Linked DNA regions of Homo sapiens: regions 2 and 3 are each linked to region 1. The links come from fine-mapping of genetic effects on gene expression. A gene starts in region 1. Each other region holds a variant in brackets. All regions are shown on one strand. Distances are between the middles of the regions.

Region 1 (8,183 bases):
GGGATTACAGGCGTGAGCTACCGTGCTCGGCTTTTTTTTTTTTTTTTTTTTTTTTTTGAGACAGAGTCTCACTCTTGTTGCCCAGGCTGGAGTGCAACGGCACAATCTCGGCTCACTGCAACTTCCAACTCCCAGGTTCAAGCGATTCTCCTGCCTCAGCCTCCCAAGTAGCTGGGATTATAGGCATGTGCCACCACGCCTGGCTAATTTTTTGTATTTAGTAGAGATCACCTGAGTGGATCACCTGAGATCTTCTTTCCTTCTCTTTCTTTTTTTTTTTTTTAACATAGTCTCCCTCTGTCACCCAGGCTGGACGGCAGTGGTGTGATCTCAGCTCACTGAAACCTCCATCTCCTGGGTTCAAGCAATTCTCCTGCCTCACTCTCCGGAATAGCTGGGATTACAGCCATGCAACACCACGCCCTGCTAATTTTTGTATTTTTGGTAGAGATGGGGTTTCACCATGTTGGCCAGACTAGTTTCGACCTCCTGGCCTCAAGTGATCCACCTGCCTCTGCCTCTCAAGGTGCCAGGATTATAGGCATGAGCCCCCTCACCTGGCCAGATTTTCCTGGATCTCTTCCTACCAAACTGGCTCCTCCCTCTCAGGGTTCTTTGCTGGTTCCTTACCATTCCCTGACCTGTCATTGTTGGGGGACTGGGCTTAGTAGTAACACTCACATCCTAAAGGATCTCACTGAATTCAGAGGTTTTACCTACTCTGAGAACCACCTAAATTCTGTCTGTGGCCCAGACTTCTCCTCTGAAGTCTTCTTTTTTTTTTTTTTTTTTTTTTTTTGAGCCGAGTCTCGCTCTGTCACCCAGACTGGAGTGCAGTGGCGCAATCTCAGCTCAATGCAACCTCTGCCTCCCAGGTTCAAGCAATTCTCCTGCCTCAGTCTCCAGAGTAGCTCGGACCACTGGCGCACGCCACCACACCCGGCTAATTTTTGTATTTTTATTAGAGACGGGGTTTCACCATGTTAGTCAGGCTGGTCTCCAACTCCTGACCACAGGTGATCCGCCTGCCTCAGCCTCCCAAAGTGCTAGGATTACAGGCGTGAGCCACCGCGCCAGGACTTCTCCTCTGAACTCTTAAGTCCAACTTCCAACTTGGGTGTCCAACAGGCAGCTCAAACTTTGTATGTCCCTAAGTAAATTTCCAAGTTCCTCCCTTCACATCTGTTTCTGCTTAAATTTTCCCCATATCACCAAATTGTATTTTCCAGTTGCTTGAGAAAAAAAAAAATTAGAAATCAGGAAAATCCTTTTAGCTTTACCCTTTATTTATTTATTTTTTTTCTTGAGTCAGGGTCTCACTCTGTGGCCCAGGCTGGAGTGACAGTGGCACAGTCACAGCTCACCGTAGCCCCGACTCTCCAGGCTTAAGTGATCCTCCCACCTCAGCCTCTGGAGTAGCTGGGACTACAGGCACATGCTACCACGCCTGGCTAATTTTTTTTTCTAGAGACAGGAGTCTCACTATGTTGCCCAGACTGGTCTCCAACTCCTGGCCTCAAGTGATCCTTCCTCCTCTGCCTCCCAAAGTGGTGGGATTACAAGCGTGAGCCACCTTTTATTATTATTATTATTATTGAGACTGAGTACTGCTCTATTGCCCAGGCTGGAGTGCAGTGGCACAATCTTGGCTCATTGCAATCTCCCCTTACTGCAACCTTTGCCTCCCGGGTTCAAGCGATTCTCCTGTCTCAGCCTCCCGAATAGCTGGGATTACAGGTGCCCGCCACCATGCCCAGCTAATTTTTGTGTTTTTAGTAGAGACAGGGTTTCACCATGTTGGGCATGGTGATCTCGAACTGACCTCAAATGATCCTCCCACCTTGGACTCCCAAAGTGTTGGGATTCCAGGCGTGAGCCACCTTTTAAACGTGTCTACAGGTGATCATTTTACTCTTCTACTGCCACCACCCTGGACAGAGCCTTATCTTTTTTTTTTTTTTTTTTTTTTTTTGAGATGGAGTCTCCCTCTATCGCCCAGGCTGGAGTGCAGTGGCGCGATTTCGGCTCACTGCAACCTCCGCCTCCCGGGTTCAAGCAATTCTCCAGCCTCAGCCTCCCAAGTAGCTGGGGTTATTTTTGTATTTGTAGTAGAGACGGGGTTTCAACATACTGGTCAGACTGGTCTCGAACTCCTGACCTCAGGTGATCCCCCTGCTTCGGCCTTCCAAAGTGCTGGGGTTACAGGTGCGAGCCACCACGCCCGGCCGGACAGTCTTATCTTTTGGCTGGCTGATTTCAACAGGCTTCTCGCTGGTCCCCCTGCTGAAACCCTCAGGGCTTTCAGTCTGGTCCTCATACCACAGCCACAGGGATCCTCCTGAAATGTCATTCCACGTCCTTTCTCTGCTCGCAACCCTTCAAATTGCTTCCCATCTCCTTGAGAGTAAAAACAGGAAGTCCTAACTTTGGTTGGTAGGGCCGCACTTCTTCCTCATCTCTTCCCCTATCTGGGGCCGCTTTCAAGCCAGCAGATTCTCGCCTCAGGGCCTTGGTCCTGCTATTCCCTCTGCCTTTCCATACAGAAAGCTCCCAGGCTCTCTCTCTCCAGGAAGCTGCTCCCTGAATGAACACTGTAAATAACAACACCCTGCTTTCTCTCCCCTCCTCACCCAGTGGTGTTTTTAACTGTCCAGTATTTGTTTTTTTGTTGTTGTTTTTTGTTTGTTTTGTTTTTGTTTTTTGGAGATAGTCTCGCTGCGTCGCCCAGGCTGGAGTGCAGTGGCGCGATCTCGGCTCACTGTAACCTCCGCCTCCCGGGTTCAAGCGATTCTCCTGCCTCAGCCTCCTAAGTACCTGGGAATACAGACGCCCGCCACCACGCCCGGCTAATTGTTTTTTGTATTTTTAGTAGAGATGGGGTTTCACGGTGTTGGCCAGGCTGGTCTTGAACTCCTGACCTCGTGATCCGCCCACCTCGGCCTCCCAAAGTGCTGGGATTACAGGCGTGAGCCACCGCGCCTGGCCCAATTGTCCAGTATTATACATACCTGTAGGTTTATTAGTCAATTATTTGTCAACTGTTTGTGCTAGGAGCATGGACTGTTTCGCTCACTGCCCCATCCCTGACGTACAGGAGGCGCTTAAAAAGTAGTTCAGTTACACATTAAAAACAAAGAAACAAAAATACACACATATGGCATTTGTATGTGCCAGGCTCCGTTGTCAGAGCTTTGCAATGCACTGTCCCGTTCATCCTCAGAAGCCCGTGGCTGGTACCACTATATTATTACACACTTTTTTTTTTAATGTGTGAGGAAATCCAGGCACAGGGACGTGAAACAGCCCATAGATAGCAAATGGTGGAGCAGGACTTAAATCCAGGTTGCTGATTTAAATAGGAATATTCCCATTAATCTGGAACGTTCTGGCACTTGTCCCCCTGGATGCTGTGTCCCCCTGGATGCTAAAATGAAGCGATCTGCTCCAAGAAAGTAAGAATCGGTCTGCACAAAGTGGGATCCCGGCCTCTCGCAGAATTAAGCTTGAAGAGTTGAGGAAGTGGTCGTTGAAAGTGGGCGTGCGATTCCCGCAGTAAGAGCGCTCAGGCGGAGGAGAAAGGGCTGAGCCCCGCCTTGGAAGCTGCGGCGGAGGAAGAGGAACTGCGGGGCTTGGCTTCTGCTTTTCTCTGCGGCCCCTCCCGCTCGGGCCTCGCGCCTACTTGCGGCGCCCTGAGTCCGCCGGCCGCTCGGGGGCGCCCGAGGCGGAAGGGGGCGTTGCGGCACCGCCCGACGTCGCGTCCTCGGCGGCTGCGCAGTGCGCACGTCAAAGCCGGGCTCGGGCCGCAAGCGGGGCGAGGGGTTCGGGGAGCGGCGCGGCCTGGGAGACACAGAGCCTTCAGGCGCCGGGGCGGGGGCACAGGCGAAGACTAAGGCGGCGCCGGGCCCCACAGCAGCAGCCGCAGCCCAAGCGAGCGCAGCAGCGCGGCGGCAGCCGCGGGAGCCCCTGGGCAGCCGTCCGCCCGCGCAGCCGCCGCCGCCGCGGGAGCCCGTCGCCGGGAGCAGGAGCGGGCGGAAGACAACGGAGGGGCCGAGCGTCCGAGCCACTCCGCGGGGACCGAACGAGCAGCCCGAAGCGGCGGCGGCCGAGGACGGGGACAGCGACGACGCGGAGGCAGAGAAGGGAACGCCCGGCCCAGCCCCGTGAGTGACCCCCGGCCGGCCCTGCTCGTGGTGCGGACGCCTGCCCGGCTTCCGCCTGCCCCGCTGGGCCCTCACCGGCCCCGGGGCTGCCTCCATTTTCCTGGGTGGCGGCGGCCCCGGCCCAGCTTGTCCCCGGAGCCCCCGGGAGCAGCCGGGCCCAGCCTGCCCTCTCCGCCCGGCTCGGCTCCGGTCCCTCGCTGAGACGCTCCCTTTGCCTTCGCCGGCGTGGGGCGCCCGGGGGCCTGCAGTCCAGGCGCTCCTGCCTCTCCCCCCGTGGTTCTCTGGCGGGGCTGGCGGCGCGTGGTGGTCCGGGCCGGAGTCGGGCGGGCGGGGAAGTGCGGGCCGGGTCAACTGTCACCGGCTGCACCCGGGCTTCAGCGCCTCGCTCCCGCCCCTGGTAAACTTCCTGTTGTCGGGAGGCAGATACCAGCTTTGTGACCAATTCAGGAAAATGCCTAACTGATTTCTGGTTAGGAATTGGGCGGTCGGAGCGTTCTGGAGTTCAATGGAACCACCCCAAGCGCAGACTGCGTGCAGGCGCCGTAGTCGGCCCGCACCGGAGGGATTCAAAGGTGAAGCGGGCCCCGGTCCCCTCCCCCGAGGAGCTTAGGCTCTGGTGTGAGAGATAAGACGAGAACACAAATAACTGCGATACCGGGAAGGAGGTGATAAGTCCTGTGAAAGAACGACGGAGTGCTAGAACGGCACCCGGAAAAACCGAACCGATCACTTCTGCCTCGCAGAAACCTGGAAGGCTTCCTGGGCGGGGGATGCTGAGCAGAGTCTTGAAGGCCTGATGGGATTTAGGAGAGGAGGATTGCAGAAGAGGTGTGTGGAAGGGGTAGCAAAAGCGAGAAGACAAAGCCTAGAAATCATGGATAATTCCGTTTGTTGGCATGGTGCAGGGGGCGGGGGGTATTGGGCTAAAGAGGTATTTTGGGGCCAGATCCTTGAATGCTGTAGAGGAGCTATTTGAGCAGCATTCTAAGAGAAACTTAGAGCTCATTTCTCAGTGACTCATGAGCCCGGAAATGTAGGCTAGGGGATATTAAAGGCGCTCTTGTGAAAGGAGAGAGGAGGAGGCCCAGTCAGGAGTTGACATTCTGTGCCTTGAATGTAATGCAGTTTCAGATCGATTTTGACAGCTTCCCAGATAATCAAGTAAATCCATGCCCAGGCTAAGCAAAGTACCTTTGCAGAAAGCTTCATTAGATATCAGGCTCTTAAGAGGTAATGGAAAGGTGTCTATAAAATAAGCTCATCTGCACACAGAAGGTGTTTCTATTTGTGCGTTCGCTACAGTGCATAAAAACTTCTTGCACTTTGTATTAGGCGTATGTACTTTGGAATTACTAAGCTAAACCTACATTCTTTGAGGTGGCATTTGTGTAAAATAACATAAATTGATGATTTTTAAAAAATGGTTAGTAATATTCTGCTGTAGAAAGCCAGACGTAGACCTTTTACAGAAAGGTAAAACTTTGTTTTTATATTTTATTTTATTATGAAATCTTTATAGTAGAGCCAGAAGTGAAAGTGTTTAGCTTTATTTTGTAGTTTGTTCAAATTGTTAGGAAGTAATTAGCAGCTGTATTCGAAATCTAGAATATACGATCTGTGAAAGCAGCTTAGGGCCTAAGTTTTGTAAGCTTGCACTTGTTTGCGTGTATGACAAGTGAATGCCACCTTTTTGCAGTTTAAAAATTTTCTGCTTTTCAAAATAATACATGATCTTTGTCAAAGCTTCCAAAATTCAGGGAGTGCTAGAAAATCTTTAAAACATTTTCTATAATCTTACCACTTAGATTTGGTTACTGCTAACATTTTTGCGTATTTTCTTTCCAGTCTTTTTCTGTGTATTTTTTCTTTGCATAATGAAATATATTGTATGCATATGTATACACACACACATCTCTTATTAAGCTTTTCTTGTCATTAAATATCTTCATATAAAAAATTTTTACTCAACAATGGAAGTCTTCTAAGCATGTTATGTTTTCCTGACAAGGTTGTATTATTTACCTCAGATGAAATGCAGTAGTTAGGCTTAATAACTACTAGTGTGGACAGAACTTTTTCTGAAAGTTTCTTGTTTGAAGTATGTTTCTTTCTCTGTAAGACTTGGATCCTCTTGCTTGTTGAATAAAGTTTTTCTTGGCAGGATGTGTGTTGTCATGAGGTGTGGAAGAGGAAGAAAGCACACAGATCTCTGCTATAGGAGTGAATGGACTTTTAAAGGGATGTTGTCAAAAGATTACTGTCATGGCTGGTATACCATCCCCCACAGACGGCGATGCAGTGTCCCTTCCCACTCCCCACTTCGCTCCTGAAAAATAGTCTCTACACTAGGGCCATCCATATAGGTTAACTATTTTTTGAACATGACATCACGAAGACTCAGGCTGGATATAAGCATAGAATATTTCATGAAATGGTTTGCTACTATAACAAATGGGTGGTATTTGCCTTTTTGGTTTTGTTTTGTTTTTTGAGACAGGTTCTCACTCGGTCGCTCAGGCCGGAGTGCAGTGGTGCGAACATGGCTCACTGCAACCTCAACCTCCTGGGCTCAAGCCATCCTCTCACCTCAGCCTCCTGTAGACGGGACCACAGGCTCGTACCATCACATCCGGCTAATTTTTGTATTTTTATAGAGACAGGGTCTTGCCATGTTTCCCAGGCTGGTCTTGAACTGCTGGGCTCAAGTAATCTCGCCTTGTCCTCCCAAAGTGCAGGGATTACAGGCGTGAGCCACCACGCTTGCCTGGATATCTGTTTTTTTATTTCAAGGCAGCTTACTTCCCTTCATTAGCATTTTCTACTTCAGGTTCTTGTACTAAGTCAGTTTTTTCCCATGTATTTTACATTCTAAGGTGTATTAATAAGATCTCTGTTTCTGTTTCATCACGTATGAAGTAAGATGCTGAGTAAGGCTGTATACGTTTCCTAAAGTTAATGTAGAAGAACTGCTAAGAAAGTCCAGTATAAGTATGGGGTTTGGTAACTTGATTTTATTTGAATGTTTGTATATTGCAAATACGTATGCCACACAGGGTCTTTATTACCTTGGAATATTTACTAAAGTTTTCTGTTTTGATCAACTTTTGTGGGATTACAGATTTCTTTAGTTATTGCCATACTTTCCCAAGAGCCTTTTTTCCAGATTGATGACTAATCACTCACAGTTTAGCCATCTGCCATGAAAATACACAAATCCAACCTCCCCAACCCCCAAAAATAAAATTCAGTAGTAGGACGAATTTTGTTTCAGGTATTGTCTTTTGTTTACCTTTCTGGCATTGTTTCTATTCCAGCTCTATTTTATTTTTTAATTTAAAAAATGTTTTAATTAAAAGAGATGGTGTCTCATTCTGTTGCCCAGGCTGGTCTTGAACTCCTGGGCTTATGCCATCCTCCTGCCCCAGCCTCCCAAAGCACTGGGATTATAGGCCTGACCACACTGGCCTCCAGCCCTATTTTAAAAGGTCAGGCCGAGCGGGGTAGCTCACTCCTATAATCCCAGTGCTTTGGGAGGCCAAGGTGGGAGGATTGCTTGAGCCCAAGAGTTGGAGGCCGATCTGAGCAACATAGCAAGACCCTATATCCACAAAAATAAAAAATTAGCCGGGCATGGTGGTGTGTGTGCCTGTTGTCCTAGCTACTCAAGAGGCTGAGGCAGGAGGGATTGCCTGAGCCCAGGAATTTGCAGCCTCAGTGAATTTTGATCACTGCATTGCAGCCTGAGGTGACAGAGTGATACCCCATCTCAAAAAATGTATATATAAAATAAAAATAATAAAAATAAAAATTCATTTTCCTCTTTTTCATTGCTTCTTTTAATTGGGCATTTGATTTTATGAACGTCTTTACATGTTACAGAAATGGGACTGTGGAAGGTGGATTAATTTGGATAACAGAAAAACTGGTAAACATTTTTTTTTACACACTTTGATAAAATTGTGGGGAAAAAATATCAAATCTGAATCTCTGGGTTAAATTACTTGTGACTTGTTATTACTGAGG
Region 2 (8,183 bases), 71 kb before region 1:
ATGAGTGACTATTCCCGAACTCACCAGAAGGTATTCATCCAAATGAGTGCCCACCATGCTACCCTTTGGAGGCTTTGCCTGTATTCTAATGATGCTGCAATAATAAAAAGTATGTTTTGTTTTGCTTTTTGAGATGGAGTCTTGCTCAGTCACCCAGGCTGGAGTGCAGAGGTGTGATCTCGGCTCACTGAAACCTCCACCTCCCAGATTCAAGCGATTCTCGTGCCTCAGCCTCCTGAGTAGCTGAGTAGCTGAGTAGGGATTACAGACGTGTGCCACCATGCCTGACCAGTAAAAATATTTTTGATACTCCTCTTTGAAATTTCTCTTCGGAATAGATAACATATATTTTTTAATAACTTCAGAAATGGTCAATATTTCTTTTAAGTAAAACTGCTGATAAGAAATAGACAAGATTGGTCAGGCATGGTGGCTCACACTCATTATCTCAGCATTTTGGGAGGCCCAGGTGGGAGGATCACTTGAGCCCGGGAATTTGAGATCAGCCTGGGCAACATAGTGAGGCCTTTTCTCTACAAAACAAATTTAAAAGTTAGCCAGGTGTGGTGGTACATGCCTGTAGTCCCAACTACTTGAGAGGGTGAGGCGGGAGGATGCAGGATTGCTGGAGCTTAGAAGTTCAAGGCTGCAGCGAGCCATGATTATGCCACTGCACTCCAGCCTGGGTGACAGAGCAAGACCCTGTCTCCAAAAAAAAAAGAAACGATTCACATAGCTTATTTTGCACAATATTGTTTTGTGGTTTTTGGTTTTGGGTTTTTGGGGTTTTTTTGTTTGTTTGTTTGTTTGTTTGTTTTTTGAGATGGAGTTTCGCTCTTGTTGCCCAGGCTGGAGTGCAATGGTGCAATCTCAGCTCACCGCAACCTCTGCTTCACGGGTTCAAGCAATTCTCCTGCCTCAGCCCACTGAGTAGATGGGATTACAGGCATGCACCACCACACCCAGCTAATTTTGTATTTTTAGTAGAGATGGGGTTTCTCCATGTTGGTCAGGCTGGTCTCAAACTCCCGATCTCAGGTGATCCACCCGCCTCAGCCTCCCAAAGTGCTGGGATTATAGGCAGGAGCCACCACGCCCAGTCACAATATTGTTTAATTTAATCATGTAATTTATTCATCACATTAAATCCAGAATTGCTTTTTTGTTTTTTTGAGACAGCGTCTCACTCTGTTGCCCAAGCTAGTGTGCAATAGTGTAATCATGGCCCACTGTAACCTTGAACTTCTAGGTTCAGGCAGTCCTCCCTCCTCAGCCTCCCCAAATAGCTGGGACTACAGGCATACACCACCACACCTGGCTAATTTTTTTTTTTTTTTTTTTTTTTGAGACGGGGTCTTGTTCTGTCGCCCAGGCTGGAGTGCAATGGTGCAATCTTCACTCATTGCAACCTCCGCCTCCTGAGTTAAAGCGATTCCCCTGCCTCAGCCCCACAAGTACCTGGGATTACAGGCACGCACCACCATGCCTGGCTAATTTTTTGTATTTTTAGTAGTAGTAGAGACAGGTTTCACCTTGTTGGCCAGGCTGATCTCGAACTCCAGACCTCGCAATCCACCCGCCTCAGCCTCCCAAAGTGCTGGGATTACAGGCATAAGCTTTTTTTTTTTTGGCGAGTCAAGACCTTACTATGTTGTTGCCCAGGCTGATCTTGAACTCCAGGCCTCAAACCATCCTCCTGCCTTAGCCTCCCAAAGTGCTGGGATTAAAGGCATGAGCCACAGTGCCTGGCTGTGAGAATAGTTTTAAGTAGATGTTTGTTGTTGTCATGAGTTCAATTGTGTCCCCAAAAAAAGATATATTGAAGCCCTAACTTCCACTACCTCAGAACATAACCGTTTTGGAAATAGGGTCACTGCAGATTAGTTAAGGCAAGGTCATACTTGAGTAGGGCGGGCCTCTAATCCAATATGGCTGATGTCCTATAAGGGAAAACTCTGTGAGCACAGACATATGCAGAGCGAAAATAATGTGAAGACACACGGGGAGAAGATGGCATGAGACTGGAGCAGTACAGCTGCAAGACAAGAAATGCCAAGGGTTGCCGGCCGGGAGTGGTGGCTCACACCTGTAATCCCAGCACTTTCGGAGGCCAAGGCGGATGGATCACTTGAAGTCAGGAGTTCAAGACCAGCCTGGCCAACATAGTGAAATCCCGTCTCTACTAAAAATACAAAAATTAGCTGGGCATGGTGGCACATGCCTGTAGTCCCAGCTACTCAGGAGGCTGAGGCAGGAGAATCCCTTGAACCCAGGAGGCAGAGGTTGCAGTGAGCTGAGAGCGCGCCATTGCACTCTAGCCTGGGTGACAGAGGGAGACTCGATCTCAAAAAAAAAACAAACAAAAAAAACCCCCAAGGGTTGCTAGCAACACCAGAAGCTGTGAGAAACAAGGAAGCGTTCTCCCCCAGGGAGCACCACCTGCTGACGTCTTTAGCTCAGATTTCTAGCTTCCAGGACTGTGAAACAATAAATCTCTATTATTTTAAGCCACCCAGTTTTGGGTACAGTCTGGTGCCGAGTAACAATGTTTAGGTTAACAATGAATCATATACACAATGCTTGTCCCATAAGATTATAATGAAGCTGAAAAAATTTTTATTGTCTAATGATATCATAACCATTGTACATTGTTGTGCAATTACTTTATTTTTTATAAGTTTACTGTAGCCGAATGTACAGTGTTTATAAGGTCTACAGCAGTGCACAGTAATGTCCTAGGCCTTCACATTCATTTATCAGTCACTCACCGACTCACCCAGAGCAACTTCCAGTCCTGGAAGCTCCACTCATGGCACGTGCCCTATAGAGGTGTACGAAATTTTATTTTTATTATTTATTTATTTATTTATGTATTTATTTTGAGATGGAGTCTCACTCTGTCCCCAGGCTGGAGTACAGTGATGTGATCTTGGCTCACTGCAACCTCTGCCTCCCGGGTTCAAGTGATTCTCCTGCCTCAGCTTCCCAAGTAGCTGGGACTACAGTCGCCTGCTGCCAAGCCCGGCTAATTTTTTGTATTTTTAGTAGAGACGGGGTTTCACCATGTTAGCCAGGATGGTCTGGATCTCCTGCCCTCGTGATCCGCCCACCTCAGCCTCCCAAAGTGCTGGGATTACAGGTGTGAGCCACCACACCCGGTGGTATTTTGTATATCTAAACATAGAAAATTACAGTAAAAATAGGCTATAAAAATAAAAATTGGGCCGGGCGTGGTGGCTCACCCCTGTAATCCCAGCACTTTGGGAGGCCAAGGTGGGCAGATCATGAGGTCAAGAGATCACGACCATCCTGGCCAACACAGTGACACCCTATCTCTACTAAAAACACAAAAATTAGCTGGGCGTGGTGGTGCATGCCTATAGTCCCAGCTACTCGGGAGACTGAGGCAGGAGAATCTCTTGAACCTGGGAGGCGGAGGTTGCAGTGAGCCGAGGTAGCGCCACTGCCCTACAGCATGGGCAACAGAGCGAGACTCCGTCTAAAAAAAAAAAAAAGAAAGAAACAAAAGAAAACAGATATACAAAATACCATTGTGCTACAATTGCCTGCAGTATTCAATACAGTAACATGCTGTCCAGGTTCATAGCGTGGGAGCAGTAGGCTACACCATGTAGCCTAGGTGTGCTAGGTACCAGCAGTAGGCTACACCATCTAGATTAGTGTAAATACAACCTATGATGTTCACACAATGATGAAATCTCATGATGCATTTCTCAGAACGTATCCGTTGTTAGGCGATGCATGACTGTACTTTGTTACGGCAGCCCCAGGAAACTAATGCAGTTGTCTACTCAGCATCCATTCCCCTCTTCCTAACAATACCCAAATTTTCGTTTGTACGTTTACCCCTTCTGCATACAGGAAACCATTGAGATGGCTTAGCCAATCAGCATTTTTTATTTTATCCTCCATAAGTCGTTGGTTTGGAGGTGGACACATCTTTAACTGGGCCGATCGGAGTGGCTCTCAGCACTCTCTCTTAGAATAGTGGGACAGAGGGCTCCTCGAGAAGGATGTGAGCCACTAGACATGAACCAGAAAGCATAAGGCTTGGATTACATCTGGCAACAGCCATCTTCAGATGCAGCCAACAGGGTGGGCAACAGAGCAGAGAGACTCAAAGGTCCTGGGTCATGGGAGATGTCTTAAAACCGCAAGATCAGTCTGCCCTGAAACATTGAATGTCTTACAGTCAAAGGCTTTATAGTTAAACCAGTTTAACTGAGATCTGGCATTCTTGCAGCCCAAAGCTTCCCAGCTGACAAGCTGGCAACACAGGGCAGATTGTACCATCTCAAGCCAAGTGAGGGGCTTTAAAAGAATCCACTGGAGGCTGGCTGCAGGGGCTCGTGCCTGTAATCCCAGCACTTTAGGAGGCTGAGGCGAGTGGATCACCTGAGGTCAGGAGTTCGAGACCAGCCTAACCAACATGATGCAACCCCATCTCTACTAAAAATACAAAATCAGCTGTGCATGGTGGCACACGCCTGTAATCCCAGCTACTTGGAAGGCTGAGGCAGGAGAATCACTTGAACCCGGGAGGTAGAGGTTGCAGTGAGCCAAGATCACGCCATTGCACTCCAGCCTGGGCTACAGAGCGAGACTCCATCTCAAAAAATAAAAATAAATTTAAAAATTAAAAAATAAGGAATCCCTTGGAGAGATAGACACGAAGGACTCGGGACTGAAGCCACACCCAAAGAATCTATAGCCTGGAGGCCATGGCTGGAACTCACCCTGCTTGGCAAATACAGGAAGAGACATGACGGTGGTGGAAAGGGCCTGCACTTCCAGAGCCTGGTGGGACAAGGATGGATGTGCATCTCCCAGAGGCCAGAGATGGGCTCGCTGAAAGGAGCTGGGCCAGGTCTCCTTGAGAGAGACTCTGCCCAGGAGAACTTGCTGCAAGTAAAGCAGGGGAATGAACCAGAAAGCAGGGACC[C/T]TGCATTGGTGATCAATTGGGCAGCAGGAGGTGTCATCCAGTTCCCTGGAGTTCCCACTTAAAATTACAACAGAGCAGGTCAACCAAAGCCCTTCCTGCCCCTCACCTCTCTTCCCCTGCCCACTCTAGTCCTGCAGAGACCAAAAGAACAGGTGGCGAAGGAGACCAGAGGTTGAGAGTCAGAAAAGCGATCAGACCACTCCCCACAGTTCCTGGACTAAGACAGGCCCCAGCTGAAGCAGGGTAGAGGGCGTTAGTAGGATAAAATATTGAATATTAGAAGAGATAAGACTTTTTTTAATTATTAAAAGGAGTCTGTTCTTATAACTAAAAGGTCCTGGAAAAACTGTGGGCCATCCCCAGATTTTAACCAGGTCTAGTGAGCACTGTTGTGCCCACATCCCGGGCATTCAACCTACGCAGGAAGGCCTTGTATTGCCAATACCCGAGCCTCTGCCCAACAGCTTTTATCTGGCCAGGGAGGGTGCTCAACGCTTGAGCAAGGCAAACAGGAAGTGCTGGAGTGGTCAAGTGCCTGGAAGTAGTCTTCAACCAAGGAGGGACAGGAAGTCATTGGGTAAGTACCACAGCTTCCTGCCCCTCAGTCGGGATAATGCTGTGACCTCTGGTCTGAAAACTCACTCTTTAATGGCCCATTCCCTTTCCTATCTTACTTCCTCACTATTTATACCCAGTTCACGTCTCAGGGTCTGTTTCCAGGGACACCCAAACCAAGACAGCAGAAATAGACAAGATGATGTCAAACAGCAGGTTTGAGTGGGCAGGAGGGCAGGGGACACGGGAGCGGGGGTGGGATGTTTCCTGTCACTTGTCTATCCAATAAACCAATCACTCAATTATTTTACTCATAATCAAGTTTCCTGCCTAAAACCTGGGGACAAGAGGCAGTGGGAGTTTTTCATTCTCTTCTGCATGTTCACCACATCTTGAAACTGAAGCTAAATACAGTTAGATACTCATCACATGGCTCTTCTGACTTCTTCCTGCCTCTTGAACTTTCCGTTTCCTCCCATGGTGCCTTTAAGAGTGGGGCAAAGTGCATACAGGGCTCGAGCTCACATGAAGTGAGCTTATAGAGCTGGGGTACTTTGGCTGATCTACGTCAGGGTAGCTAGTTTCCAATAGCCCAAGGGCCTTACTTTGTTTTTTCCTTTTTTAAAAATTAAAGTGTAATCTACCTACAGTAAAATTCAGTCTTTTTTCTTTTTTTTTTTCTTTTTTGAGACAGGGTCTCACTCTGTCACCAAGGCCAGAGTGCAGTGACACCATCCTGGCTCACTGCAGCCTTGACCTCCCTGGGCTCAGGTGATCCTCCCACCTCAGGCTCCCGAGTAGCTGGGACCACAGGAGCTCACCACCACACCCAGCTAATTTTTGTATTTTTAGCAGAGACAGAGTTTCACCATCGTGGCCAGGCTGGTCTCTAACTCCTAGCCTCAAGTGATCTGCCCACCTCGGCCTCCCAAAGTGGCGGGATTACAGGCATGAGCCATGGTGCCCTTGCGCCCTACCCTTTCTGATAGTTTCTCAAGTGCAGGAGTAGGGTGAGGCAAGAGAAGAGGAGAGTGAATGCCTCCTCACAATTTTGTGTCTTAGATACCTCTCTTGCCTCATTCCAGTCCCAGCCCTGGTTGTTCTACATAATACTTCCTTAAAATTTTTTATTTCTGGAGCATGCATGGTGGCTCACACCTATAATCCCAGCACTTTGGGAGGCGGGCAGATTTCTTGAGCCTAGGAGTTCAAAACCAGCCTGGGCAACACAGAGACCTTGTCTCTACAAAAAAATCTTAAAAATTAGCCAGGTATGGTGGCACACGCCTATAATCCCAGCTACTCAGGAGGCTGAGGTGGGAGGATCACTTGAGCCCCAGAAGTTGAGGCTGTAATGAGCCACGATTGCACGACTCCAAAAAAAAAAAAAAAATCATTTCTGGCTGGCACAATGGTGCACACCTGTAATCTGAGCTATTCAAGAGGCTGAGGCAGGAAGATTGCTTGAAGCCAAGAGTTCAAGACTGCAGTGTTCTATGACTGTGCCTGTAAAGAGCTATTGTACTCCAGCCTGGGCGATACAGCAAGACCCTGTCTCTAAAATTTGAAAGAAAGACTGGCCAGGTGCAGTGGCTCACTCCTGTAATCCCAGCACTTTGGGAGGCCGAGGCAGGCAGATCACTTGGGATCAGGAATTCGAGACCAGCCTGGCTAACATGGTAAAACCCCATCTCTACTAAAAATATGAAAATTAGCCAGGTGTGATTGTAGGTGTCTGTAATCCCAGCTACTCAGGAGGCTGAGGCACAGGCATGAGAATCACTTGAACCCAGGAGGAGAGGGTAGCAGTGAGATGAGATCGTACCACTGCACTCCAGCCTGGCTGACAGGGCGAGACTCTCTCAAAAAAAAAAAAAGGGGAAATTTTTTTTTTTTTTGAGACGGAGTCTTGTTCTGTTGTCCAGGCTGGAGTGCAGTGGCACGATCTCGGCTCACTGCAACCTCCAACTCCTGGGTTCAAGGGATTCTCCTGCCTCAGCCTCCCAAGTAGCTGGGATTACAGGCATGCGCCACCACGCCCGGCTTATTTTTGTATTTTTAGTAGAGACGGAGTTTCGCCATGTTGGCCGGGCTGGTCTCGAACTTCCTACATCAGGTGATCCGCCCACCTCAGCCTCCCAAAGTTCTGGGATTATGCATGTGAGCCACTGCGCCCGGCCGAGAAAAATTATTTCTACTGGTTTGTTTCTAGTTTGTAAAAATCCCATTGATTCTTATATATAGACTTTGTATCCAGCAACTTTTGCAGCCGAGTCTTAACTCACAGAATAAAGGGTGGGACGTTCCTGCTTCGGTTCATGCCTAAGAAAGCTCAGTGACAGGCAGATTCTGAAAGTGATGTTCCAGACTAGAAAACATGGAGTGTCTGTGTTTTCAAGGATCTGTGGGCTTTCCCCCAAAGCTTTCTATTGCCTCTCTCCACTCCTCAGTCACTTACCAGGCTCCCAGTGCATCATGGGCAAATGGAAATCTGGGAAATGGAACTTTAAGTTAGAGCCAGACTAGCTGGGAGAAGGGCAGGCACGAGGAGAAGGAGCGGTGGCTCAGCTTCTGTGAGTCCATGGAGGCCAGAAGTCCATCCTCCAGTTCCCTATCTACCCCCCTATATTTTCTCATGCTTTATTCTCATTCCTCATTACAAAAG
Region 3 (8,183 bases), 62 kb after region 1:
AATTCACTATATTGAAAAAGTACATGTCAATTGATGAAAAGGGGAAAAAAACCAGCATCTATTCCTGATAAAAAAAATAATCTCAGCAAACTAGAAATAGAGGAAGGGAATTTTCTCAAGCTGATAAAGGGCATCTGCAAAAATCCTACAGCTAGCATTATACATATGGTGAAAGGCTAAGTCATGTTATCTCTGAGATCAAGAAGACGACAGGGATATCTACTTTCACCACAACTATTCAACTTCGTACTTGGAGGTTCTAGCCTATGCAGTCAGGCAATAAAAATAAATTAAAGGCATTCAGATTGAAAAGAAAGCAGTAAAACTTTTGATTTGTAAATGACATGATCATCTACATAGAAAAACTGAAGGAATCTACACAACTAGTAGACTAGTAAATAAGTTTAGCGAGTCACAGGTTATAAGGTCAATATACAGAAATCAGTTGTATTTCTGTATAGTAGCAATGAACAGTCCAAAATTGAAATTTAAAAATACCTTGTATTCAAGAGTGTTAGGTGTAATTGGGAAAAAAGAATGGAAAAAAAGAAAAAGAAAAAAACTAGCATTTAGAATAGCATCAAAAAATATGAAATGCTAAAAATACCATTTAGAATAGCATAAAAACATGAAATAGGGATAAATCTGACAAAGGAAGTGAAAGAGTTGTACACTGAAACCTGCAAGATACTGCTAAGAGAAATTAGCCCAAATAAGCAGGAGATACATGTTGTTCATGGGTTGGGAAACTCAATATTGTTAAAATGTCACTTCTCTCCAGATGTATCTAGAGATTCTGTGCAATTCCAGCAGGATTTTTAAATCAAAGAGTTTGTTCTAAAATTTGAATGGAAGTGCAAAAGACCTGGAGTAATCAAAATAACTAATTAAAACAAAGTTGGAGGGCTCACACTGTCTGATTTCTAGACTTAAAAAGCTACGGTTGTTAAAACAGTGTGGTGTCAGTGCAAAGATAGATATATTAATGGAACAGATTGGGGTGCAGAAATAGACCTACACATGTATGGAACATTGATTTTTGACAAAGGCATAAATGCAGTTGTGCAGAAAGAAGGTAGTTGTTTCAACAATTGGTGCTGAAACTATTTAGTAGGCAGAAAGATAGGACTCAGACCTCATACCATATTTAAAAATTAACTCAAAATGGATCACATAGCCAAATGTAAGACCTAAAATTATAAAGTTGCCAGAAGAAAATCTTTGTGACCTTGGGTTAGGCAAATAATTTTTGGATGTTATGCAAAAAGCACAATTCATTTTAAAAAAAATGATAAATGGAATTCATAAAAATTAAAACCTGCTCTTCAGAAGACACTGTTAGAAGAATGAAAAAGACAAACCACAAACTGGAAGAAAGTCTGCAAAGCATATATCTGATAAAAGACTGCATCTAGAATATATAAAGAATTCTCAGAATTTAACAGTTAGAAACAATCCAGTTAAGAGTGGGCAAGATACTCATATATGCATTTCACCAAAGGAGATAGGCAGATGTCAAATAAGCCCTTGAAAAGATGTTAATCATTAGGAAATTGTGTAGTAAAACCATAAGGAGATTCCACTACACAGCTATTAGAGTGGCTAAAATGGAAAATATTGACTATACCAAATGTTGGCAAGGATACAGAGCAGCTGGAACTGCTTGTGGGAATATAAGATGGTATGACTACTTTGGAAAATAGTTTGGCAGGTTTTTTTTTTTTTTTGAGACGAAGTCTCACTCTGTTGCCCAGGCTGGAGTGCAGTGGCACAGTCTCGGCTCACTGCAAGCTCCACCTCCCTGGTTCACACCATTCTCCTGCCTCAGCCTCCCAAGTAGCTGGGACTACAGGTGCCCACCAAGACGCCTGGCTAATTTTTTGTATTTTTTAGTAGAGACGGGGTTTCACCGTGTTAGCCAGGATGGTGTCGATCTCCTGACCTCGTGATCTGCCTGCTTCGGCCTCCCAAAGTGCTGGGATTACAGGCGTGAGACACCACGCCTGGCCTAGTTTGGCAGCTTTTTAAACCAAACTCGAACCAACCATATGATCTAGCCATTTAAGTATTTACCCAAGAGAACAAGAAATATATGTTCATGAAAAGACTTTTGCTTAAATGTTCATAGCGGCCTTATTTGTAAATGGCCCAGACGTGTGGATAAACCAACTGTAGTACATCCATGTAACAGAGTACTACTCAGCAATAAAAAAAAAAAAAAAAAAAAACTATTGCTGTATACAACAGCATGGATGAATCTCAAAGTGATTATGTTGAACAAAAGAAGCCAGACTATAAAGAGCACATAGTATATGATTCTATTTGCACAAAACTCTAGAAAACAAAGCTAATCCATAATTACAGAAAGCAGATCAGTGGTTGCTTTAGCTTTGATAAAGATGTTTAGGGGAAGGGTTGCATGGTAGAGGGAGGGAACCACAAAGGAGCATAAAGCTTTTGGTGGTTACGGTTTTGGTGGTTACAGAGGTGTTCACTATCTTGATGGTTTCATGGGTGTATGTGTATATATATATATATATGTGTGTGTGTGTGTGTGTGTGTGTGTGTGTGTGTTACATTAGGTACTTTAAATATGTGGAGTTCATTGTATGTCATTTATAACTCAGTAGTGAATAAAAAAAGACTGTTTATGTACCAACTGGGGCAGATGTGGCTTAGAAACCATAAAGCACCCAGAAAGGCCATTGGAAGGCTAGATTGCAATACTTGAAATACACTATTGAAATTCAGCGATTATCTTCTACTCTGTATAGGCAAGTCCACACTTGAGGATGTAGAGAAACTGCAGTGTGCCAAGAGAGGAGTGACCAGGCTGACATAGAAATTCAAAACTCTACTGTGAGGAACAGTTGAATGACCTCAAGATGTGAGGTACAGCCTAGGGAGAAGATTTGAGCAGAGTAATGTTGTAGGGCGGATTTGCTCTTAGTAAAATGTATTTGGGAGACCATATAATGTAACAAAAGGATTCGAACTGATCGTGGCAGGAGGTAGAATTCAGACCCATGAGTGGAAATAAAACAAGAAGTCCAATTTTGTCTTGATATTAGGAAAAACAGTAAGTGGAAGCTGACTTTTTCAGAAGACAGCAAGTTTTCTGTTTCTGAAGAGGTATTG[A/G]CATGGACTAGGTGACCACTTAGTTAAGTATTCTAGAAGGAATTCAAGCTTTGCACTGTTGACATATCCTTACATCGATATACCACCATACTTTGCAAGGTGCCTTTGTATAGAGTCCCCCATCTTATTTTGAGATAGAATTGATTCTGGTTTCCCGTGATCCAGATGAAGAAAGCTGTTATTTACTAGGCTTATTACTTTGACTCATTATATTAGAGTCAAAGACGGAATTCACACCTAGCTCTGCCAAATCCATGGTAAAATTATGCCTTTTTCCACTTTATTCATTATGTCCCTGGGCTTTTTCCATCCATTTCTTGTGATCTCACAGACAAAATGATAAATATAACATTTGAGTGTTTATTCCTTTATTTGTTATATGTTGGTATTTGTATTTGTTTTATATGGTACATAGTTACCACATTAAGAATTGTGTATGATACAAATAGATTAGTCTCTTAGGAGACTAATTCTTTTAAAAGAATTCATACAAAACTAATTTTCTTACATTTTAAAAAAGCGGTTAATGTTACCATCCTTATTTTTAGGTAACTAGGGGCAGGGGTGGGGTGGGACTTAGTCTTTCACTGCCAACAACCAAACAGATGTGGTGTATGTGGGGACTATTTACGCACTCTTCGCCCACCACATGCTGTATAAAGGAGGTATGGCTGCCTTGCTCAGCTTATAGGTGGTTCCCTTCCTTACGATGAATGCTTGTGTTCACAGGGTTGAATAGCTATATTCACTCATTTCATGAGAGGAGTAAGTTTGCTGACATATTTTAAGAGGGGGGAAAGGGAGTAGCCTCTTCATAGCATGGCCATTTAACAGTGACTCATGGTTACTAAACTTGTTTACAGTAATCTTGGACACCAGAAGGTTATTAATAGACTTTCCTTAGTCCATGATCATTCAGCTTAGACTATGCAGACATTTTCTTTAGTAAAGAGGTGGGGGTTGGGGGAGGTAGAAAGCATTTATCACTGGAATTAATGTGATAATAGAATTGTTCTTATTATCAAATACTTGGCACCAACAGTATCTGTCAGTTCACTTTTAGATTCCATTTCACATCTTGGTCTTCATTTACTTTGATATAGAACTTTCTTTTTTCAACAAGGTCATTTAATCTCTTCTTGTAGAATGAATTGATATTTCAGGCAGTAAATATAAATGGGTAAATATTTAGAGGACTCTTGTTTAAAATGATTCTTTTGTTAAAGATTGGGTTTAAAGAAACTCAAAAAAAACAAAAAATAATAATTTAAGCCTCATCATTCCCCCCAAATCTGAGCTCTTTAAGGCATTTCTTTTTTTCTTTTTTCTTTTTTTTTTTTTGAAACAGACTCTAGCTCTGTTGCGAGGCTGGAGTGTAGTGGTGTGATCTCGGCTCACCGCAACCTCCGCCTCCCGGGTTCAACTGGTTCTCCTGCCTCAGCCTCCTGAGTTGCTGGGATTACAGGCATGCGTTGCCATGCCCAGCTAATTTTTGTGTTTTTAGTAGAGACATGGTTTCCCCATGTTGACCAGGATGGTCTTGATCTCCTGACCTGGTGATCCTCCCACTGTGGCCTCCCAAAGTGCTGGGATTACAGGCATGAACCACCACACCTGGCCTCTTTGAGGCATTTCTTAACAATAACTAGTTATATGTAAGTTAGAATCAATTCAGTTATGTAAACTAATGAACACAGGTATGGAAAATTTTGCTAAATAGATCCCTTCAAAATTATTTCTAAAAAGATGACTTAACAGTGGTGCGCATTGGAGTTAACGTTTTCCTCATGCATGGTTGCCTTTGTTGTTGTCTACTGTCTTTACTTGCATCATTATCTCTTGCAAGAGATCCCCAGTTTGATTGAATCCACAGACATTTTAGTGCCTCTCTGTGTGGGCAGATAGGCATAGGAGTCAAACCTTGTCCCCGTTCTTAAAAAAGTATATAATCCAGTAGAGGAGATACACATGTAAATAATATAATATAGAGGGACTTGGGGGCGCAGATAAAATTCTGTGGGAACCAAGAGGATAAAGCAGTTCCTACGTCTGTCAGAGACAGATACAGAGATGACAGGTTTGAAGTGACGTTTAAGCTGATTTTTAAGGTTTTTGGCAGGCAAAGTGTGAAAGGGAACAGAATTTGAAACAACCTATGGCATGTTCAGAAAACAGTGACAAGTTCAGTGTGACTTTAAGAGGTGGAGATAAAGAGGAATGGTAGGAAGTAAGACTAGAGAAACAAGCTTTGGTAGAATGAAAAGGGCCTTATAGACAACCTAAGGGTATACTGAGGGGGAGTGCAAGAGGTCTTACGCTATAGAAGTCTTATGTTGCCTTACTTTGTTTTGTTTATTTTGAAATTAATTAATTCACAGGAAGTTGCTGAAATGAGTACAGGAGAACCCATGTACCTTTCACCCATATCCCCAGTGGTAACCTCTCACATAACTATATACAATATCAAAACCAGAGCATTGACATTGGTATAATCCACAGGGCTTGTTCAGATTTCACCAGTTTTACAGTTTGTGTGGATATGCATATAGCTCTATGCAATTGCATCACACTTATCTGTTCTCCAAGTCTATACATTTTATTACTTCAAGAATGTTAAATAAATAGAATCATATAGTGTGTAAACTTTTGAGATGGGCTTTCTTCCACTCAGCATCATTCCCATGAGATCCACACAAGTGGTTGTGAGTGTCACTAGTTCATTGCTCTGGAGAAACAAGTAGGTCATGGTTCCAGGTGCTCTGTCTCACTTCATCCACTTTTTTTCTTCCCCCCCCGAGATGGAGTCTCGCTCTGTCACCCAGGCTGGCATGCGGTGGCACGATCTCGGCTCACTGCAAGCTCCACCTCCTGGGTTCATGCCATTCTACTGCCTCAGCCTCCCCAGTAGCTGGGACTACAGGCGCCTGCCACGCCCGGCTAATTTTTTGTATTTTTAGTTGAGACGGGGTTTCACCGTATTAGCCAGGATGGTCTCGATCTCCTGACCTCATGATCCGCCCGCCTCAGCCTCTTAAAGTGCTGAGATTACAGGCTTGAGCCACCGCACCTGGCCTTTCATCCACTTTTTTAGTTTTACTTTATTCTAACTAGTATATTGGAATTCTACATTGTGTAGTAGGGAAGTGTGTATGAGTGTGTGCGAGAAAGATCTTTGTTTCCTTCATAGATTCTAATTTATTTCTGTATCTATACAAAGTCATGTTCTAATGATGTATATGATGTATGTTCATTCCCCCAAAAAGCAGAAAATACAAGACTATAAAGAAAAAAATTAAGTTTATCCTTAATTCAGTACCACGTGAAATGACTACTGTTAACTTGGTGGGGATTCTCATTCATATTCTAGCTTGTTTTCTCCCTCTCTCTGGGGCAGATAAGTAAATGAGTATGGGGTCATGCTGCTCTGTAACCTGTTGGTGTTTTTTTTGTTTTTTTTTTTTTAATTTTAAATTTTAACATCTTTTCATGTGCATATAGATCTCAATTTTGTTTTTTTTTTTTTAAATATGGAGTCTTGCTCTGTCACCCAGGCTGGAGTGCAGTGGCATAATCTCAGCTCACTGCAACTTCTGCCTCCCAGGTTCAAGCAATTCTTGTGCCTCAGCCTCCCAAGTAGCTGGGATTACAGGTACCTGGCTGATTTTCATATTTTTAATAGAGATGGGGTTTCACCATGTTGGCCAGGCTGGTCTTGAACTCCTGACCTCAAGTGATCGCCACCTTGACCACCTCCCAAAGTGCTGGGATTACAGGTGTGAGCCACCACCCCTGGCCCTCAATTATTTTTAAAGCCTGCCGTGGTTCTTCCATTTTATGGGTACGTAATGATTAAACTAGTTCAGTGGGATAACTTTTACTTCTAATTCTTTGCTGTTGTAAGTAACACTGCATGTACTTACCTTTGTGTACTTGTCTGTTTCCATAGGGTAAATTCCTGAAAGTATAATTCACAGGAAGTTGCAGAAATGAGTCAGAGGCCTTGCACCTTTTAAAACTCTTCAATAACATTTTGCCAAATTGCCCTCCAGTAAAGTTGTACCAATTTATTTTCCTACCAGTGGCGTATCTAAAAGCCTTTGCCTCTGATAAGAAGGAAGAATATTTTATCCTTTTAAGATTGTTACTATTACTATGAAATAGAATCTTTTGTAAGGTTTTTAATGTCTGACTTAGCCATTTGTATACTTCAGCATGTTACTATGTTTGTCTTTAAGTGTGCTTTCTATATTGAGGTTAGAATTGCTACTAACTACTAAAAATTGGGGACAGTGAAGAGGGCAGCCCAGTCTTGTATCTCACCAAGTAAAGTCCTGTCCCTTCATGTGGAAGTAGCCTTCTTGTCACCTTGTTTCCTAACGTAAGGCCGGTTTGGATCTACTGAGTGCTTGAGTCCAGAGGAGGAGTGTTGGTAAGGGCTGTGAGTACTTCAAGGACATTGCATAGAAGCACTAATGGGTATGTGAGCTGTCTTCTCGAGTCTTCTGAAATTGTACTTTTGTATCACTACTTTTTATCAGCAATTGCCTCTAGTGACAGTAAAATAGTGCACTGATAGGTACCGTGGGAATATTGGATTTAAGTCAAGAGAGTTAATACGAAACCTCCTGAGGTTTTGGTGATCTCTGAAAAGGCCATTTGTACTAATGTTTAGCTTACTAATTGCTTATTTTCCCACCCTGTTTTATTTTTTAATGGGAAAGCAGGCAGTGAAAAATCTCATAGCCTTAGTGCTACTTGAAGAGGTTATTATGGACTCTATCCTTAAAAATTTGAAGTCCTGTTACACGTTACTTAACAACAGGGATACATTCCAAAAAATGCATCATTAGGCGATTTCTTCCAGCCTGTTGCTCCTAGGCTACAAATCTGTGTAGCTTGTTACTATAGCGAATACTGTAGGCAGTTGGAACACAATGGCAAGTATTTGTTTATCTAAACATAGAAAAGGTACAGCAAAAATATGGTATTGTATCTGTGGGACCACAGTTGTCTCTGTGGTCTGCTGTTGACCAAGACGTTATGTG

Evidence for each region. PIP is the estimated chance that this variant, and not a neighbour inherited with it, causes the effect. A credible set is the group of variants that fine-mapping cannot tell apart.
Region 2: its variant is the best candidate, but not a certain one, in a credible set for the expression of CAB39 in whole blood (TOPMed, PIP 0.63).
Region 3: its variant is the best candidate, but not a certain one, in a credible set for the expression of CAB39 in whole blood (INTERVAL, PIP 0.54).

The regions. Positions count from the first base shown.
Region 1 is chr2:230,709,071-230,717,253 of GRCh38, forward strand. It overlaps CAB39 (calcium binding protein 39), which reads left to right and starts at 3,772. Exons shown (of 9, transcript NM_016289.4): 1 at 3,772-4,160. LOC124907996 (formin-like protein 16) reads right to left here and starts at 4,256. Exons shown (of 4, transcript XM_047446832.1): 1 at 3,009-4,256. The coding sequence starts at 4,256. The coding sequence ends at 3,498. RefSeq lists a silencer at 3,544-4,483.
Region 2 is chr2:230,638,187-230,646,369 of GRCh38, forward strand. No RefSeq gene overlaps it. Among named protein-coding and RNA genes, the nearest start is that of LINC01907, 58 kb to the right of the region's middle. RefSeq lists an enhancer at 6,277-6,446. The variant C/T (reference allele first, on the strand shown) is at 4,964.
Region 3 is chr2:230,770,776-230,778,958 of GRCh38, forward strand. All of the region lies in intron 2 of CAB39 (calcium binding protein 39), which reads left to right. Among named protein-coding and RNA genes, the nearest start is that of CAB39, 62 kb to the left of the region's middle. RefSeq lists an enhancer at 3,819-4,113. The variant A/G (reference allele first, on the strand shown) is at 3,139.